Homo sapiens: one gene and its partner. The protein of the gene in region 1 interacts with the protein of each later gene in a biochemical or structural test. Each region holds a gene or a part of one and is shown on either strand. Other genes may lie near its edges.

Region 1 (4,893 bases):
TGACCAACCATATGAAGGTGATTGCATGTCTGTTAGGCAGGGACTAAACTATGTTCTGTGAAGATAGAACCCCAATGGCAAAAGGGCTCTGCCAGGAGATCTAGCGAGAAGATAAGCCACATATGTGTGCCCTGCAGAGCACAGCAAGTGTTACCATAGCCCTGAGAAAAGAAAGGATGATTTGAACTGGAGAGACAGACAAAGACCTCATGATAATAGTTGTTTATGTAGTCCCTTTCATAAATCTCTTCACAGATCATACAGTCCCTCCACAGATCACTGGCCCACACACTCTTGCATCCCATTCTCACAGTAGCCCTATGGGAGATAATACCATGATGTCTCTACTTCATATGGAAGAAGTTAAAGTTCAGAGGAGTGAGGTAACTTGCCCAAGAGTATAACTAACAGGGGACAGATCTGGGTTTCAAGCCCAGTGTTTCTCATTCCTGATTCCTGCTTTTACTACACACACTGGCCACACTGCCTCTTGGCACAGGTGGATCTAAGCCTGGCCTTGAAAGATAGGTAGGTCTTGCATAGGAAACTATGGTAAAGGGCTTTCTAGGAGAGTGGAGGGTACTTTGGGGAGGAAAGTGTACAGGTGATGGAGAGGATGGGAGTGGAAAGACTGAATTGAACTAGACTACAGAGGACCTTACATACTATAACAAAGAATTTGGGGGTGAGTATGGTGGCTCATGCCTGTAATCCCAGTTCTTTGGGAGACGGAAATGGGTGGATCACTTGAGCCCAGGAATTCAAGACCAGACTGGGCAACATGGAGAAACCTAGTCTCTACAAAAACTACAAAAATTAGCCGGGCATGGTGGCACTCACCTGTAGTCCCAGCTGCTCAGGGAGCTGAGGTGGGAGGATCACCTGAGCCAAGGGAGGTCAAGGCTACAATCAGCCATGAGCGCCACTGTATTCCACCCTAGATGACAAAGTGAATACCTGCCTCAAAATAATAATAACTTGGGTCTTGTAACATGTATAGAAAGGAGGAATGAAAACTTGTGACTAGAGGGATGATCTACATAGCTGTACAAGTCTCTTAGAAACAAATCCTTCGTACTCTCTTCTCCTTAGGAAATGAAGATGGAAGTGGCTCCATCACTTATCAGAGGCCACACAAGAAATGAGCAGCAGTCAGGATTAGACAACCAGAGATAGATTCAGGCAACCAGCAGTGCTGTCTTCTGTCTTCAAAGACACCTGTTGATTAAATATGGCATTAGGGGAGGGAGGAGAAACTCTATTTCACCAGATGACATAAAACTGTGATTATCCTTCTCATCCCTTCCTTCCCAGGGGATTTCACCATGAGCAATCTTTTCAATTGGGCCTTCTATCCTGGGCTACAATTTTAGTTCCTTTTGAGAATGAGTCAGCAGATAGTGCTTGAGAGGAGAAAAAAGAAAAAAAAAAGTCTCTCTAAAACTCAAATCAAATTTCTGTGGGCCTTCAGACAAGTCTGACATTCTTCCATGAGTTGGCTGGGCCGCTGGTCTCAGTTAGGAATACTGACACTTCACCCCAGCAAACCAAAAACGCAGAGACTCATCACCGTCATTCCAAGTAGGATCAGAGATGGAGTGTTCAGACGCATTTTCAGATAATTCAGATCAACTTTACAGTACCTTCAAAATTGCTCATCCCTACAAAAATGAAGCAAACACTAATGTATTTAAGAGATTTGCCATCTTTGGGAAACAATGTGTCTGCCATTTAGTTTAAGATCAAAATCTCAGAGTATGAGAATTTTTCAAATCACCTCAAAGGGAAGGCAGACTTGAACACTGAAATGCTTTCCCAAGAGCAAGCCCCATTTACCCAGCCAGTGCTATGTGTCCAAGGCAATGAAAGATCTTATGTCACATCTCAGTGCACACATGCAAGAGGCTGGAATTACAGGTGCCATGGGAGCTTTAACCTCGAATTTCTAGACATTGTGTGGGTTTCACATGTCTACTGGAATCTAACACTCCAGTAGCAGAATTGTTAGGTCTGAATATATGGGTATTCATTGATGTTATGGGAAAGGAATCGGAGAGTGAGCAATTCTGCAGTACCATTCATGTAGCAAAAGTGTGAAAACAAACAGGTTAATATTAGAAAATTACTCTGCTCATGAGTTGTTTTAAGTTACTGCTGTTACAGTCTATGGAAAAGCGTATGTTTCAATTGAAATTCTCATGTCTACAGAGTCATTTTGTCTTTAGACATTTATGACTGAATTCATACTCATTCATGTATTCAATACTCATTCATGTATTCATTCACCCAAATGTTGAATAATATTACCAGGCACCAATCTCAATAGAGCATTCATGTAAATGAACAAGAATAAGGTTTCTATGCTATTTCTTCCAGGCTTTGAGAGAGTAGACATTTCTCTTCTTTCTGATTTTTAGCTCTGAGTATTGGAAATTCCAAAAGAAGCAATACTCATTGGAGAAATCTTTATTTGTGGCTTATAATCATAAGGATGGTTAGACACATTTTCTTAAAGGTAACAACCAGTTTATATTCTCCATTGCCCCTTCACCCTTGGTGATATAATTTACTGTAAGGATATTTTTGGAAGGCTAGGTCTTCAGCCAAGGATATTTCTTCTTCTGATTCTCCCTTTCTCAGCTTTAGTTCCTCTATTTATATATTAACATGGGGCCAGGCACGGTGGCTCACACCTGTAATCCCAGCATTTTGGGAGGCCAAGGCGGGTGGATCACCTGAGGTCAGGAGTTCAAGACCAGCCTGGCCAATATGGTGAAACCCTGTCTTTACTAAAAGTACAAAAATTAGCTGGTCATGCTGGCGCATGCTTGTAGTCCCAGCTACTTGGGAGGCTGAGGCAGAAGAATTGCTTGAACATAGGAGGTGGAGGTTGCAGTGAGCCAAGATCGTGCCTCTGCACTCCAGCCTGGGCAACAGGGCGAGATTCTGTCTCAAAGAAAAAAAAAAAAAACATGGAGAAAAATACCATAGGTAAGGTGAAAACTAAATGAGAAACGGAGAAAGAATATTTATCATACATAAAGCATAAATGTCCTATCATACAAAGACTACTTACAAATCAATAAGAAAAGACACACCACTTAACAGAAAATAGGCAAAAATGCTATGAATAGACAACACTAGAAAGAAAATACAAATGGGCAATAAATAAATGAAAAGAATTTCAAGCACATGCATAAAGACATTCAAATAAAAATAATAAAATTCCAATGTTTATGACCTAGGAGGACAGCAGAGACTAAAACAGCTTAATGTCTCATGTTGGAAAGAGTAAAGGAAATGTCACTGTCTTATCCTCTTGGTAGGAGTATGACTTGGTATAATCTTTCCACAGAGCAACATCTATTTGAGAAGTTAACTATTTACACAAATTTGATAATGCCAATTCTACAGCTATGTTCACTCAGATATATGTACAATGTGTTTATTGTAGCATTGTTTGTTACAGCAAAAGTTGGAAATAATCTAAATGTCCACCAGTAGGGGACTAGATAAACAAAGGAGGAAAGATTCATGTAAGAAAATGCCATGCAACTACAAAATGGGATAAAATCAATTGTCGTATACACTGATTTAGAAAATTCTCCAATGTATATTATTACATGGAAAAAAGCAAAAAGTTCCAAAATATTGGGCCGGGCACGGTGGCTCACTCCTGTAATCCTAGCACTTTGGGAGGCCGAGGCTAGCAGATAATGAGGTCAAGAGATTGAGACCATCCTGGCCAACATGGTGAAACTCTACCTCTACTAAAAATACAAAAATTAGCTGGGTGTGGTGGTGCATGCCTGTAGTCCCAGCTACTGGGGAGGCTGAGGCAGGAGAATCGCTTGAACCCAGGAGGCAGAAGTTGTGGTGAGCCGAGGTTGCAACACTACACTCCAGCCTGGGTGACAGAGCGAGACTCCGTCTCAAAAAAAAAAAAAAAAAAAAACAAACGTTAAGAGAGACACAGAAACAGACTTGTAAAAAGGTGAATGGGCACCAAGATTTTATCCTGAATGTGCTGGTCCCGGTGACTTTAAGATTCGAAATTGAGGTAAATGCAGGGAGAAATTGGCTGGCCTAGGATCCGGAGACCTGAGTTCCAGCCCCAGCTCTATCCCAAACTAGCTATGGGATGTTAGGCAAGTCACTTCACTTCCTCATCATTCATGTTAAAGGTCTTCTCATATATAAAATGAAGGTATGATTTCAAAATTTGCTTTCAGCTCTCATGTTCATTTGACTCTGATCCTAGACAGGCTTTAAAACATTTCTTATTTGGGGGTGTGGATGATAGAACCTCACGTAGATGTTCTATCTGATCCTGTGTGGCTCTTCTCCCATAATCTCAGGGCTACATTTTGTACTGTGGAGTGACCCTCAAGGCCAGGTGAAGGCAGGGGCTCTCAGCAGGTGCTTGGTGAGTTTCTCCGAGCTGGTTGTTTTTATTGCCAAGTGACACTAGAACTGTGCTAATCCCTTTCCGTTAATGCAAACTAAGAATAGGGCCTGACGCCACTCTGGGGTCTTAGATTCTTTTCCGAAATTTGGTCTCATTTAAAACCCAAAACACTCTTTGGCTCCAAGCGTCTTTCCCGTGGCCTTTAAAAAAATCCTGTTTAATTGAAAGGAAATTGAATTTGTCTGGTTTTGATTCATTTACACTTAACTCTTCTAAAAACAATAATTTGATGTCCAAGGAGAATTTTGAGTCTCTTAATGGGTTTTCTGGAAGGCTTTGTTTCTTCTTGTTAAAACAGGAAGTGGTGTTCTATGGGCAAACACAGTCAACCCCAGAAGGCCCCAATTCAGTTTGAAACTGTATCACCCACCATTTTGCATGGGTCCTCATGACCCCAAGCTAAGGCCTTTCTTTCCCTAGTACTC
Region 2 (4,893 bases), on another chromosome or scaffold:
GGAACCTCCTAGGCTCTCACTGCCCCTGGAGAAAGCCCAGACCTCTCCAGGCCTTCCAGACTGCCCACTCCCTGGCCCTGTCCTGCTCTCTACCTCAATCCCTGTTCTGGCTACTCTGTGAACATATGTCTCATTTCCCAGCCCCCATATTTTTGCAGATGTTGTTCCCTCAGCTGGAACAGCCTTCTGAATTCCCACAGATCCTTCCAGGCAGCTCAGAAGGCTGGCCCTGGGGGACCCTTCCCACCTCTCAGGAAGCTAGCTGCTTTCCCACTGGTAACCTCTGCCACACCAGGCCCATGGAACTTACAGCCTGGTGGGAGCCAGTCACATAAATATGTGATTACAAAGGATGGTAAGACCTCTGTAGGATGCGCCACGCAGGCAGTGAGTAGCAGGGAGTGAGGGGGGCTGGAGGAGAACGGAGGCTGCAGGGACCTGTTGGCTGGGGGCCTTCGATCTGAGGGGTCAGCAGGAGCATAATGGCCTGCCCTGCCAGAGGGTCTGGAAGGTTCAGAGGGGCAGGACTTGGGAGCCTGGCTGTCATCGGCTCACATCCACCTCTGCCAGCTTGTGTGGGGTAGGGCCTCCTTGGAGGGAGGCCACCAGGCACAGGCCTCGAGTCACCAGCCAGCCCTAGGATATGAGGAGTCCTGGGCTCAGTCAGAGGGCGGTGCCCCAGGTACCCCTGAGAGAGGAACAAAGGCCCCTTCATGGCAGGAGCCAGAGAGCCAGATCCTGTGAGGACAAGGGGCCTCTGTGAGGAGCCAGGGTGGGGGATGCAGCCGGGCCTCTCCACGAATAACCACACGTGTGCACACAGGCACACTCGCCAACCCAAACAGCACATAGGGAGCCCCACTCGACATTAGACACACACGCACACAGTTGGAGCCACAGGTACGTACACACACTGCTGTGATGACACAGGGGCACACGTACACACACACACACACACACACAGAAACACACATGCACTCACCGGCTCTCACATCTCAACAGATACCCGGGCCCACACAGACCACACCCGACCACATAGGCTCCACACGCACGTGGAGTGCCACAAGCTGTGATGTACACACTGGCACAGAGATGCTCCAGGCAGACACAGAAACAAACATACAGTCCTGGAAGGACCCCACATCCCTGACTAGAGTCTGGCACCATGAAGTCCAAATGCAGCTTTTTCCACCACAGCCCCCAGGCACAATGGCTGGGGAATGGAGGAGGGGCAGAAGGGCAGCTGGTGTCAGGCTAGGCTGGGCCTTTCCACCCAGGGAGACGAAGAAAGTCCCTCTTGATCCAGAGCAAAGTCTAAAGTGTGTAAGGGAAGGAGTGGGCTGGTCAGGCACATCACTGGGCAGGCCTCCGCCCGCCCGCCCACCTGCCTGCAGGGCCCTGAGGCTATGGTGGAGGTTGAAGGTCACAGGTGGCAGTCACAGGCCTGGCGCGCAGGGGGAGGGGAGGGCTTGAACCTATGTTGGTAGGGCAGCAAGCCGGGCACCCCAGGAGCAAGTTCCTTGAGCTCCAGGCTCACTGTGCAGAAACCGAAAGAGAGGTTGAGCAATTCAACCAAAGCCACAAAGCCAATGGGGCAGACCCAGGGGGAAGTGGGGAGAGAACTTCCAGCTCTAGTCCTAGAACTGCCCATCTGGCCTCCAATGGGGTGAGGGTATGTGTTTGGAGATGGGAACAGCTCCTCCATCAGCCCCCAGTACAAGAGCCCTACTCCTTAGCCCTTCTTTCTCCCACAGAGTTCCCACGATTTTCCAGATGGTTTACCATTGGAAACAATCGTTTTGTGTTTGGGAGAAGGCAAGATGGCCACCTAACCCTTTTGCCAGTCATCCCCAGGATCTGGGCAGGATCCACATGATGCTTCCCCACTTTGGGGATATTGAGAAAGCTGGGAGAGAGGCAGGACCATCCCGCATGGTGCGCCATCCCACAGCAGGCAGCGGACAGAGGAACCGGCGAGCTTGGACCTAGACAGGCCTAGCTCAGATCTGCTGCCTGGGTGCTCCGCGATCTTGGCCCAAGTGCTCTGGTGTCTTCCAGACTTCCTTGGAAAGTGGGAAAAGAGGCTCTGTTAAGCCCCCCAGCCGCAGGGTGCCCTGTTCTGGCCTGAGGCTCTGGGCAGAACTGGGCTGAAGCAGGCAGCATGAGTCCACTGGCAGAGGCTGGCCAGCTACTGCCCCTCCCGGGGCTCCAGCCTCCCTGTCTCAACAATGGAGACCTCTAAGCTTTCTCCAGCCCTGACACTGGAGGACCCTGGGATCCTCCTCCCACCCCAACAACCCCAGCCCACAACCTACACCACGCAGACATCTGATCTAGCCTCAGGCCTTGGCGACTGCCTGCTCTGCTCTGCCTGTTTACCCAACACGGCCATAGACATGATCCAAAGCTTCCGGAGCTGTTGTGAAAACAGCGGCTCAGCCACCACAAGCCTGCCCTCCTGGGTGCCTTGGCAGAGACCTTTGAGGGACAGCCATCCCAGTCCTGTTCGTGGGCCTCTCAAATGCTCCCCCACCCCTTAGAAGGCCTGTTGAGCCCTCTCCTCCCCAATCCTGGCTTTAGGCTCCCGTCTCTACTTTGGGCCCAGACCCTCCTGAACTTCAGGCTTGTGGCCCCACCTGCCTCCCTGGCTTCACCACATGAATGACTCCAGAAGAGCTCAAGCCTGCCCACACCAGTCCCCCGCCGTTCCCCTCCCAGCGCTCCTCATCCACTAGGAGTGCACGAGCTCAGGCAGTGGCTCAGGCCAGACAGCTCCCCCTGCTCCCCACACAATAAGGCCATCCCGTCTGCCGCTGCAGCCTGTCCTCAAGTCTCAAATCCTCTTCTCCCACCACCACCATCCCCAGGCTCTGCACCTGTCTTCTGACTGCTCTCCATCCTCTACCCCGGCCCGACAGTCCCCCTGTTCCAGCCACCAGACGGGGCTTTTCAGACAGATTTTGTCACCCCCTGCCCAAGCCCCCAGTGCCTCCCATTGCCCCTCTGACAAGCCCAGACTCCTCCCCTCAGCCTGCTCCATGCAGCCTGCCCCCCGCCACCCCCCTCCCCATCACCGTTACCTCCCTGACCTCTCGGGCAGGCGCTGCCTTTCCCTCATTCCTGTGCCCCAGCCACGCTGACCCCTTTCAGTTCCCGAAGCAGCCAGTTCCTTCCCGCTTAGGAGCCTCTGGGCTTGCTGTTCCGTCTTCCTGCTCCACCCCACCCCACACAGTGGCTCCTTCCCATCGTTCATGTCTCACAGGACACCACACCCCGTGATCTGCCCATTTCACAGACGAGGCAAGTGGGGAACGGTCCAGTCCCTGGCTCAAGTGTGCACAGCCAGTAAATATTGAGCAAGGATTCAACCAGGGTCTGTCTGATGCCTGCAGAAGTCCTGCTCCTAAGCCTTCAGGATACCCTCAACCACACTTCCCGCCCAGGCCCATCCACCTTTCGCTCTCCAGCCCTCAGGCCCCTGCTGTTTGCATCACTGTCCTTACCACTCCTCAACACTCCTCATCCCCAGCCTCTGGGCCCCACACAGTGAAGGCCAATGCTTAGCCCAACCCTAACTGTGCTGACCTTCTTCGTGTCCCTGGGACAGGCTGGGCCCTGCCCCCAGCTGCCATGGGTGTAGGGGGTTTTCTAGCTCCCCCTACTCTTCTAGCTTCCATCAGTCCCAGATGCCCACTCCCTGCCCCAGCCCACAGGCTGACTCCAGGGGTCTGAAGGGTAAGCAGGCTGGCAGGAGGGCTTACGTCCACCCCCTCGTTCCCAGCCAATTCTCCCAGCCTAATGTCCTGCAGGAGGCCAGAGCTGGAGAGGGCCAAGGGGAGCCCTGAGGGGGCAGCAGGCAGCTGCAGACTGCCTTTCCCCTCCCTGCATCCATTTGTCACGAGATCTATTTTCTCCCTTTGAAAGGGAGTGAGGGGGAGAAGAGCAGGCAGGGGCTGGACTGCTGAGTGGGTGGAGCTGCTCCAACAGGAGCTCCTCTCCTCGGAGGGCATGGAACCTACTGAACAAGTAGGGCACTGCCACTGGAGGTAGAATTGAGGGGGATGAGGGAGTCAGAGACCTGGCTCCTCAGCCAGGCTCCACAGCCACCTGGCCATGTAACACTGGGCCAGTGCCCAGCCCATCAGATAATAATACCCCCTCATCAGTCCCACTTGCTATTTTTTGAATAGTTCCCATGAACTGGGCTCTAAATGCTTTACATAACTACAGTTTCTACTCATTCAACTCTGACAATGCACTAAGCACGATGCCAGCTACTTTGCATATGTTATCTGTCATTTCCGCACAACCTCATCAAGATGGATGCTATCATTATCTCATCTGTCAGGGGGAGACTGAGGCACTGAGCGGCAGAGCCACTTGCCCAGGTTCATTCATAGAGCTGCTGGGAGCTGCCTAGTCACTAAGATGCAGCCCAGCCATCACCTCTCTCAAGGGGGCCATGCCTACCAGAGTTGATGCTCTTGAGCCTCGGCTTACAGGCTCAGAGCAAGAAAGGAGCCACGGTTGTGGGGACTGCAGGGGACTTCGTGACCTGCCCCCTGCCCTTCTCCTAGAGCCCCCCAAAAAGGCCTGGGCAGCCCTGGCAGTGAAAAGCCTGGTCAGTCAGCCTAACCCGGTGGCCAGACGCTGCTCCCCTGGGCAGGCAAGGCAGGGGCGGAGCAAGGCGTAGAGCCACTGACAGAGGGCTGGTCAGTCCCACTCCAAAACCACTTCCTGGGCAGCTCAGAGGAAGTAAGCCTCCGGAAACGCCTTGAACAGATGGGCCTCTCTCCTAGGCCCAGGCTTTGGGAAGTGAACAGACAGCCCCTGCCAACCTCTCAGTCCCTAGAGCCCAGCAACTCCACTCCCTCTAGGCATGGACACCGTGGG

What was found.
Region 2: of the proteins of FLI1 (region 1) and PRKCD, one has a biochemical effect on the other in vitro, tested with the Homo sapiens proteins (one study listed by BioGRID).

The regions. Positions count from the first base shown.
Region 1 is NC_000011.10:128,699,909-128,704,801, forward strand, and holds part of FLI1 (Friend leukemia integration 1 transcription factor), read left to right. Parts: intron 1-4,893. UniProt on the Homo sapiens protein: Sequence-specific transcriptional activator. Recognizes the DNA sequence 5'-C[CA]GGAAGT-3'.
Region 2 is NC_000003.12:53,167,008-53,171,900, reverse strand, and holds part of PRKCD (protein kinase C delta type), read right to left. Parts: intron 3,199-4,893; exon of another isoform or gene 3,119-3,198; coding exon of another isoform or gene 3,081-3,118; intron 1-3,080.